3 separate regions of the Homo sapiens genome follow, and all the other regions are reported to be linked to region 3. The links are microRNA targets in miRTarBase. Many come from high-throughput screens and were not tested one by one. Region 3 holds a microRNA gene; each other region holds the end of a gene's coding sequence.
The links. The annotated mature microRNA hsa-miR-519b-3p reads AAAGUGCAUCCUUUUAGAGGUU and lies in region 3 at 1,784-1,805, shown strand. An mRNA with a match to its seed (bases 2 to 7 or 8) in the 3' UTR can be bound and repressed. Matches are read on the target gene's strand: a 7mer-m8 pairs with bases 2 to 8, a 7mer-A1 pairs with bases 2 to 7 and ends in A, and an 8mer does both.

Region 1: the mRNA of KBTBD2 is a reported target of hsa-miR-519b-3p. Seed matches in the 3' UTR shown: 8mer at 2,471-2,478.
Region 2: the mRNA of LIN52 is a reported target of hsa-miR-519b-3p. Seed matches in the 3' UTR shown: 7mer-A1 at 2,544-2,550.

The regions. Positions count from the first base shown.
Region 1 is chr7:32,866,429-32,869,688 of GRCh38, forward strand. KBTBD2 (kelch repeat and BTB domain containing 2) reads right to left here. Exons shown (of 4, transcript NM_015483.3): 4 at 1,744-3,260. The coding sequence ends at 2,917. Among named protein-coding and RNA genes, the nearest start is that of KBTBD2, 24 kb to the right of the region's middle.
Region 2 is chr14:74,198,490-74,201,749 of GRCh38, forward strand. It overlaps LIN52 (lin-52 DREAM MuvB core complex component), which reads left to right. Exons shown (of 6, transcript NM_001024674.3): 6 at 433-3,004. The coding sequence ends at 488. Among named protein-coding and RNA genes, the nearest start is that of VSX2, 39 kb to the right of the region's middle.
Region 3 is chr19:53,693,480-53,696,739 of GRCh38, forward strand. MIR519B (microRNA 519b) reads left to right here and starts at 1,734; the gene lies at 1,734-1,814. It overlaps MIR526B (microRNA 526b), which reads left to right and starts at 914; the gene lies at 914-996. LOC107985342 (a long non-coding RNA gene) reads left to right here. Exons shown (of 3, transcript XR_007067332.1): 3 at 550-1,143.

The DNA of each region.
Region 1 (3,260 bases), not on the chromosome of region 3:
CTTATAATCATGGCAGAAGGCAAAGGAAAAGCAGGCATGTCTTACATGGCAAGAGCAGGAGGAAGAGAGTCGGGAGGTGCCACACACTTTAAAAAAAAAAAAACAGATCATGACCACTCTCCCACTATAAAACCAGTACTAATGAGGCATGGTGCTAAACCACTCATGAGAACTCTGCCACCATGATCCAATCACCTCCCACCAGGCCCTACCTCCAACACTGGGAATTACAATCCGACATGATTTTGGGTGGGGACACAGAGCCAAACCGTATCAATGGCCATGCTCATGTTCCAGTTTCTGTGGTTGTAGGCAATGCTTGGTGTTCCCTGGTGTGCAGCTACATAACTCTAATTTCTGCCTCCATCATCACACAGCAACTTTTCAAAAAAAAAAAAAGAAAAAAAAAGAAAGAAAAAGAAAAGAAAAAAGTAGTAAGGAAGATAGAGTTGTACTCATGTAAGGCTCAGGTTTTGTCAGTTATAAGTTAATGACAACAGGGCAAAAGGAGTTTAAGATATTGCCATGATAGTGGCAGAAGTATTAAGATGACAGATCTGAGCTGGATGGAGAGGTAAGTGAAAAGGTTACTAATGGAACTACTAATGAGAATTAAAAAACTGGCATATTGGGTTTGACTCTCAAACTTTCCAAAGCTCTTCGTATTTATCTGCTTTAATCCAACAGTTTTATCACCAACTATACAGTGTGCTGTGCTACACTGCAGGGGGATGCAGCCGTAAATAAGACAATCAACACTGATCATTTTGTAGAAAAGCATGAAGACTAATAATATTCATTTATCTTATCTTTTAGAGATGGGGTCTCAGTCTTGTCACCCAGGATGGAGTGCAGTGGCACAGTCAAGGCTCACTCCAGCCTTGACCTTCCAGGGTTAAGTGATTCTCCCACTGCAGCCTCCCTAGTAGCTGGGACTACACACCACCATGACTAGCTAATTTTATTTATTTATTTTTTTGGTAGAGACAGGGTCTCCCTATGTTGCCCAGGCTGGTCTCAAATTCCTGGGCTCAAACATTCCTCCCACTTAGGCCTCCCAAAGTGCTGGGATTACAGGCATAAGCCACCCCACCTGGCCAAAACTAGTAATAGTCAATAGAATGATCAGTACAATTAATAAGATCTAGGTACAAGGTAGTAAAAATGTGAGAAAGGATACTTTTCACCTCATGGTAAGACATGGTTATCAGGAAACATTCTTTAAAAACTGCCTTAAATAGCTCTTGAGACAGCTGCAAGTAAAGTTGGGATGAAGAAACCATTCTGAGTAGCATGAATAGCATAAAAAAGCATAAAGCATAGCGAAAGCCTAATCAGAAGATAAGGCTTATGGAAAAACAATGCAAGGTAGGGCTGTAAAGGTAATTTAAAGCCAAATTAGAGAGAGCCTTAAATGTGGTAAGGAATCTGGACTTCATTCAGTAGGCAGTGGAGGGGCAGTTCAAGTCTATAAACATGATCAATGATGTGCTCTAAAAAGAAACCATTTTGTTTGGGGTGAGGTTCAGGCATCATCTCAAGCTTCTAAAGATGATGATCAGAATCAGATGATTCTAACATGCCAGCAGGGTAGAAAGACACTAGCCTAAGGAAAGCCTATGCATATCTCTCAATCTTCATCAAACAAAATTTGGAAGAAACCACCTATTACTAGCTAAGTTTGACCTAGCAAAATCAAAATTTAAAAAGCAGACCATTCCCATAACAAAAGAAAAATAGATATTGAATATATACAATTTATTTAATAAATTAATGTCATTCAAAATACAGTGCCAGAACATGGTGCAGTTGAACATGCTAGTAATGTTTGTCATGAAGCACCTGTGCTCATGTTAGATTGGCGGCGCCCCACTACTGCTAGTGGTTCCTGGGATTAATGCCAGAGCAGCGCTAGTTATCTGCTCTTCTGCACAGCTAGTGCAGAGAATTCCTGAACAGTTCACCTTACTAATCCTAACCCCCACACGCACACAACAGGTTAAAAAAAACACACCCTGACAGCTAACAGATCTATACACAATCACTCTACAGTAATGCTTGTTATTAAATTAAGATGTAATGACCTGGTTAACCCACTCTAAATCTTGAAGATGGAGAACTACATCAGCAGCAGATAGTTATATGCATGAGCCAATGTTAACATAATACAGAAAGTGGAGGCTTTTTCTGATTAAAGCTCCACGCAGACCCGCACAATGAGTGGCTGGCAATTCTTACTGCAAGCCTAGCAACTTAAGTCCACACCTGGTAAATGACCAGCTGACTGGAAGACCTGTATTCTAGATAGACAAGTATAAGTTAGTGAAAAGAGAATACATGCACCTAATAGTATAGTTAGACTGATCCTGCAGTCATAGCTTTCCCTGTGTAATACCATAAAATTATGGAAGATCTTCCTCAACTAGAGTATAGGATTTAGACATTTCTATACCAACACGGACATTAGTGTTAAGTGCAGTTGAATTAATTACACTGAAAACTGTATTCCAGGACTTCAGAACAGAAGCACGGGAATGAAACACACATACTAAAATAACCTCAGCACAATTTGTGATACATCACACTAGGAACAGGAAACTACTTTTATAAATGAACTTTTTGAACTGTACATACACAGGGCTAACAATGTTAGATAATCCAGATTCTTATACTCTCATGATTACACATAAAGTTTCTCAATTATTGAATAATCTATTTCATATTATGGAAGCATATCTTTCTGTAAGACTCACTGATATATATTATACTGATGCAAATATTAAGTAGGGCATAAAAATAAAATTTATCAAAGATAGAATTTTATGTACTCATATTTAGTTCTTTCATAGCCTCTTTTGTTTAGCAAAGAAAATGACAAAGCACATAACTCAGGCGTGCACTCCCTGAACTTCCCCACTATACAGGTGGTAGTGCAACCATTTCTCCATCCAGTTCAAACTCTTCTGTCCCATCCGTTGAAAAAAGATAAGTTGGTGGTTTCCATGGAGACTCTTCAAGGCAGGATGGATAGAGTTTCCCCACAGTGCATCGAAAATCTCTCCCCAAGTCCCACAGTACACGTTCAGATATATGCTGCCGCAGAGACCACCGGTCAAGTTCCAGGTCATATTGGTAGGTGACGTATTTAGCTCGCTCATTTAAGTGGGTTTCTCGCATAAACACACATAGAGAATTTGAGATCACAACAGCTCTAACACAGGGGTCAGAGTACCTCTTAGCAGGGATGTTGGCTGCCATTT
Region 2 (3,260 bases), not on the chromosome of region 3:
ATCTCTAATTTTGATTTGAGATTATAAATGTCCAGAGACCAGCAACCCAGAGAAGACTAATCTTGGTTGGATTTTAGGCTTCAAGAGCAAACCCCCTGAGATAGTGAACATGAGTATTAGGTTAGATTCTAGAGACAGAGATAGGTTTTGGGGGAATCCCCTGGTGATTTGTTTAAAGGTGGATGATAAAATCTTTCCCAGTCATTTGGCATGTATCTCAATTGCCAACTTCAGAATAGCTTTGTACAGTTTTAGTTGTCTATAGTGGTTTGTTTTTACCCCCTTTTAGGTTAGTTGGTGATGATTGAATCTGTTGTGATAGCAACTTGATATATAATTTAAATCAATCTGCATTTTTAAATTAAATCTTCCTATGATTCTTTTTTCCGATTTTAGGTTTTCATTGATCATTTGTTTGCTTTGTGATTCCAGCCAGAGAGATGACACGGGGGAAATTCCTCAATATTCTAGAGAAGCCCAAGAAGTAGCAGCTGCTTGCGGACAGGATGTCCTGGGGTCCGAAACCAAGCTCCCTTCCCGGTGCACCTCTAACAATGCACACCTCACTGCTTGCTTGGGAGAGGCCAGAGGGTGTACCTCCAGGACTGCCCTCTCCCCTGCTCCTGGCACTCTACACGTCTGAGGACATTCAGCAGCAAGAGAAGAATCTGCTCTACCCAAGGATCATTGCAGTTACTCAATCAACTTTCAGACTTGAACCTTCTTAGCCTCGGATATTGGTAACAGCTGAGGGCATATCATTCTTAAAGGTCGAAGTCCTGCTTTCTCATTTCTGGAAGTGATTCAGGAGCCCCAGGATCTTACGGTTGATTTGACTCAGTCATGGCAGTCAGTTGTGACATGTTGATTGGATGGGTTCTTTTGAATTGTTCTTGATCTCTTAGAAAGTGTTTACGATGTGAGGAGACCAGAGACCAAGTAGATTCTGGACCAGACCATGCAGCCTGACCTGTGAACTCTCCAGTATATACTAAGTTCCCAGAATCCCCAGCTGAAGAAACCAGAATCTTCTCGAAATGTATATCTGTTTTTTAAAACTTCTATACCTCTTATGATAGTCCCATTTGCTTTTCATTCCTTACTTCCCAGCCCCACCTTCTAGTTCTGACTTCGGGCAGAGGGATCCCTGAGTCCCTCCTGGAATTAGCTTGTATAGTGAAAGGCCCATCCAAGGTTGTCTAAAGACCAATGTGAAGGTGACAGAAAGGACTTTTGAGTTCTAATTAATCTGTTACAGCTTCAAGCAAGAAAGTCAGTATAGCCTGAAAGACAAGAGAAACGGGATGGTTTATAGGAGTTCCCATTTGGTTGAAAGCTAGAAGCCCTAATTGACCTTAAAGTAACATGCTATGGGATGGTGGGATTGTCCCCTCTGACAGCACATATGAAATAGTTCATCTATATAATAGAAACGCACACACACGAAAAAGAATCTTCTGACTTAAATACAACTTTCATGGAGTTCTTCACCACTTATCTGTCTCTGTTAAAATCTGAAAATCTAGCCCATGGCTAAAATCTATTATATGTGTTCTCCATATTTCTTGTATAAGCCAGTCCCCAGCATCTGATGTTTTGAGAAGTGCATGGAGTTTCCTAAACTTTGCACAAAAGAATATCCTGGGGCCGGGCATGGTGGCTCACGCCTGTAATCCCAGCACTTTGGGAGGCCGAGGCAGGTGGATCATAGGTCAAAAGATCGAGACCATCCTGGCCAATATGGTGAAACCCTGTCTCTACTAAAATACAAAAATTAGCTGGGCATGATGGTGCATGCCTATAGTCCCAGCTACTTGGGGGCCTGAGGCACGAGAATCGCTTGAATTCGGGAGGTGGAGGTTGCAGTGAGCCGAAATTATGCCACTGCACTCCAGCCTGGGCAACAGAGTGAGACTCTGTCTCAGAAAAAAAAAAAAAAAAAAAAAAAAAAAAAGAATATCCCTGTGGCAATAGTCTGATGGTGTTTGGACACAAGAAAAGTTATGGTTTTGAGTCGTGAGTGTTTGCTAGGGCATGGCACTCTTCAGTTTAACAGCTGATCCATTAAACCTTTTCTGACATTTGTGCCTTGTTCTCATGCTAGAATTAATGCTGGATTTTTCTCTCATTTGACCATCAATGTAGTTTTACTTATTGAAAGGAAAAAAGACTTAACACAAGATAGGAAAGATGAGTATGAGAAGTAAAACATTCTGCTGGGGTGCTACATAGAAGGTTAGGTTGTAGGGGCTTTGATTTTAATTTAAACTTATTATCGATTGATATTTCTGTATCTCACTAAATGCGGTTGAAGAGTGTGTGTGTGTGTGTGCGCGCGCGCATGTGGCCAAAAAATAGTGCCATAATGTCAAATTCTTCCTTTGCTCTGTTTTTGAGAGTTGATGACATCAGGCACTTTTCAGTGTTTGGGGAAATTGATTGGGATACCTCCCCCAAACCAACTCAAGTCTGTAACTGGAAGCCAGGTGGTTGGTTTTCTGGTCCGCTTTGTCCTCTTTCTTTTACCGTCATCCTATTCACCAGCACTTAATGTAAGTAGATGTTTTAGAATTGCAATATTTATTGGTTTAGTATTTGTCATCCTTAGAAATGTTAATGATGTATTTTTATATTGATAATATAAATTTATGTACAGTATGTGTGTATATGTATTTCAGGATGTTATAGTATTGTACTTTGTATGTGATGGTTTTTGTGTCTTCATAATAAATATGTCCCTTTTACAGGAGGGTGAGTTTTTCCTCAGAGGGCCGAGTTGGATATTTAAAGCACAGACCTCCCCAGAAAGTACAACTGTAATGATAAATAATCTACTGTTTTCCCCCTTAATATACTTAATGGATAGTTGGGGGCTTTACAGTCATCTACTTGGTCTCCTGCCTTCCATTCTATCCTACCACTGCCCAACACCCGAAAGTAGTATTTAGAAACCCTTAATACCTTCCCGTGTCTACTAATAAAGTCTCAATCTCTTGACCCGGCATTTTAAGACTCTCTACATGTAATCCTAAGCAACCCTTCCGTTTCGTTTTCTTCCTCTCCTATATATGAAGTCTCTGTTGCAGTTACTCTGAACAGTTCCCAGTTTCTCACTTGAGTGCCTTTGCTCCTGCCTTTGAGTTCCTAGAAGGTCTTGGATCCCTTTTGCATCTGGCAAACCTATGCTTCCTATAATCTCCTGATGATCCAGCTGGAAATGGTCCTTCCCCTACATTCCTATAGCATTTACCCATATCATC
Region 3 (3,260 bases):
CAATATTTGGAACTTTCTTTGAGACAGGGTCTCAAAAATACATGATGTATATTTCATTTTATATTCTTATATATTATGTACACACAAAATACTCTTCTAAACACAGAGAATACTCCGATATCACCTAGGGTGTGTGTGCGTGTGCGTGTGTGTGCGTGTGTGTGTGGTTCTTTTCTGAGACAATATCTGCCTCTGTCACCCAAGATGGAGTGTGGTGGTGCAATCTCGGCTTACTGCAACCTCCACCTCCCACCTAAGCCTGCTGAATTAGTCTCTACAGGCATGCACCACCACACCTGGCTAACTTCTGTAATTTTTGTACACATGGGGTCTCGCCATGTTGCCGGGGCTGGTCTCGAGCTCCTGAGGCAGGTGATCCTCCTGCCTGGGCCTCCTAAAGTTCGAGGAGTTAGAGGTCTGAGCCACTGGGCCCCACTTGTACTTGTGTATTTCTGCTCAAATTTTATTGAGTAGTTTTTACATCCTAGCCTGTGATCTACTCTGGAGAGTGTTTGTGCATATGACAGTGTATATTCTTCAACATCGTAGACTCCATTTTGGATGCTCCCTTCGTGACTGTGGGTCCTGTACTGGAACTCGAGTGAACACTTGGCTTAAAATCCATTGCTGTTCTCCAGAAATCCTGCCCAATTTTCTCGGTTAAAGGTACGTGTAGTAGGCATTGCTTTTTCTCTTTGGGGACAAAACTCAGGAGGATTGCCCCTTGATGAACAAGGCTAACCTGCTGATTCTTTGAAGCAAGGAACTGGAGATGGTCCTTATAGAGTTTTATATTCTGGATTCCATAAAACATGCATACAGGGTCAATAAATGCATCTTTATTTTTGTGTCTATTTTAACTTGGTCAAAGAAAATTCCAGGAAAAAATCCACGGCATCAGAGCAAGAAGATGTCAGGCTGTGACCCTCTTGAGGGAAGCACTTTCTGTTGTCTGAAAGAAGAGAAAGTGCTTCCTTTTAGAGGCTTACTGTCTGAGAAAAGCAACGTTGTAGTTGATGCTGATCTTTGTAATATCTTTGCAGAGCACGCTTATAATCAGACTTGGATGATGTTGGGGTTTTGTTTTTCTTTTGTTTTTTTATCTAAGACTGGGTCTCTGTTGCCCAGGCTGAAGTGCAGTGGCACAATCTTGGCTCACCACAACCTCCGCCTCCCGGGTTCAAGTGATTCTTCTGCCTCAGCCTCCCAAGTAGCTGGGATTATAGGACTGCGCCACCATGCCTGGCTAATTTTGTATTTTTAGTAGAGACAGGGTTTCTTTAGGAGCTTTTAAGGCCTCCCTTGTAGTCTATCCTGGAGGATGTTTGTGTGTGCAACAATGTATATTCTTCAACATGGTAGATTCCATTTTGACTGCTCTAATCAGGACTGTGTGTCCCTGTGCTGGAAATCAAGTGAACACTTGGCTGAAAATCCACTGCTGTTCTCTAGAAATCCAGCCCAATTCTCTTGGTTAAATATAAGGTATGCATAGTAGGCATTGCTTTTTCTTTCTGGACACAAAACTCAGGAGGATTTCCCCTTGATGAACAAGGCTAACCTGCTGAGCCTTTGTAGGAAGGAACGGGAGATGGTCTTTTTAGGGGTCTATGTTCTGGATTCCAGAAAACATGCAAACAGAGCCAATAAATAGGTCTTTATTTTTGTCTCTATTTTAACCTGGTCAAGGAAAATTTCTACAAAAAACCCAGGGTGCTGGAGCAAGAAGATCCCATGCTGTGACCCTCTAGAGGGAAGCGCTTTCTGTTGTCTGAAAGAAAAGAAAGTGCATCCTTTTAGAGGTTTACTGTTTGAGGAAAGCAACAGTGAAGTTGATGCTGATCTTGGTAATACATTTGCAGAGCATGCTTATCATCAGACTTGGATGATGGTGGGATTCTGTTTTTATTTTGTTTTTTTTTCTAAGACAGAGTCTCTCTTGCCCAGGCTGGAGTAGGGTAGCACTTCCAACGTAGATCTTTTAGGCTCAAACGGTCCTCTTTTTTTTTTTTTTTTTTTTGAGGCGGAGTCTTGCTCTGTGACCCAGACGAGAGTGCAATGGCGCGATCTTGTGTGCAAGCTCACCTCCTGAGTTCAAGCAATTCTTCTGCCCCAGCCTCCCAAGTAGCTGGGACTACAGGTGCCTGCCACCACTTCCAGCTAATTTTTGTATTTTTAGTAGAGACAGGGTTTCACCACGTTGGCCAGGCTGGTCTCAAACTACTGACCTCAAGATCCACCCACCTCAGCCTCCCAAAGTGCTGGGATTACAGGCGTGGGCCATTGTGCCCAGCGGTCCTCTTTTTTGAGATGGAGTCTTGCTCTGTGACCCAGGCTGGAGTGCAGTGGCAGGAACTTCGCTCCCTGTACCCTCCACCTCCCAGATTCAAGCCATTCTCTCCTGAGTCAGCCTCCCTAGTAGCTGAGATCGCAGACATGAGCCACCATACCCAGCTAATTTTTGTATTTTTATTATTTATTTATTTACTCATCGATTTTTGAAACAGAGTCTTACTCCGTCCATCAGGCTGGAGGTCAGTGGCACAATCCCACGTTCAAGCAATTCTCCTGCCTCATCCTCCCGAGTAGCTGGGATCACAGGCGCACACCACCACGCCCGGCTAATTTTTGTGTTTTTTTTGTTTGTTCGTTTTTTTTTTTTTTGTAGAGACAGGGTTTCAACATGTTGGCCAGCCCAGTCTCCAACTCCTGACCTTAAGTGAGCCCATACACAATCAAGAAGAGAGCGAGACCTGTTCTTTTTTTCTGTCTTTGACTATTTGAGACAGTCTTGCTCTGTCACCCGAGATGGAGTACATTAGTGTGATCTTGGCTCACTGCAACCTCTGCCTCCTGGACTCAAGCAATTCTCTTTTTTTTTTTTTTGGAGAAAGAGCCTCTCTGTGTCTCCCAGGCTGGACTGCAGTGGTGTGATCTCAGCTCACTGCAACCTCAGCCTTCCAAGTAGCTGGGATTGCAGACATGTACCCCCATACCAGCTATATATATATATGTATTTTAGACACAGTTTCACCATGTTAGCCAGGCCATTCTTGAATCCTGACCTCAGGTGATTTGCCGACGTAGGCCTCCCGAAGTGCTGGGATTACAGGTATGAGCCACTGCACTCAGCCTTTTTTCCTAATTTTGAATATGGGACCCATTATGAATTTGGGTGTCACCTATGTGCGGGGGCTATGGAAATCTCTGTCACCCCATTCATTTGTGTGTGCTGTCAAAGCACCAATATGTGGGAATTA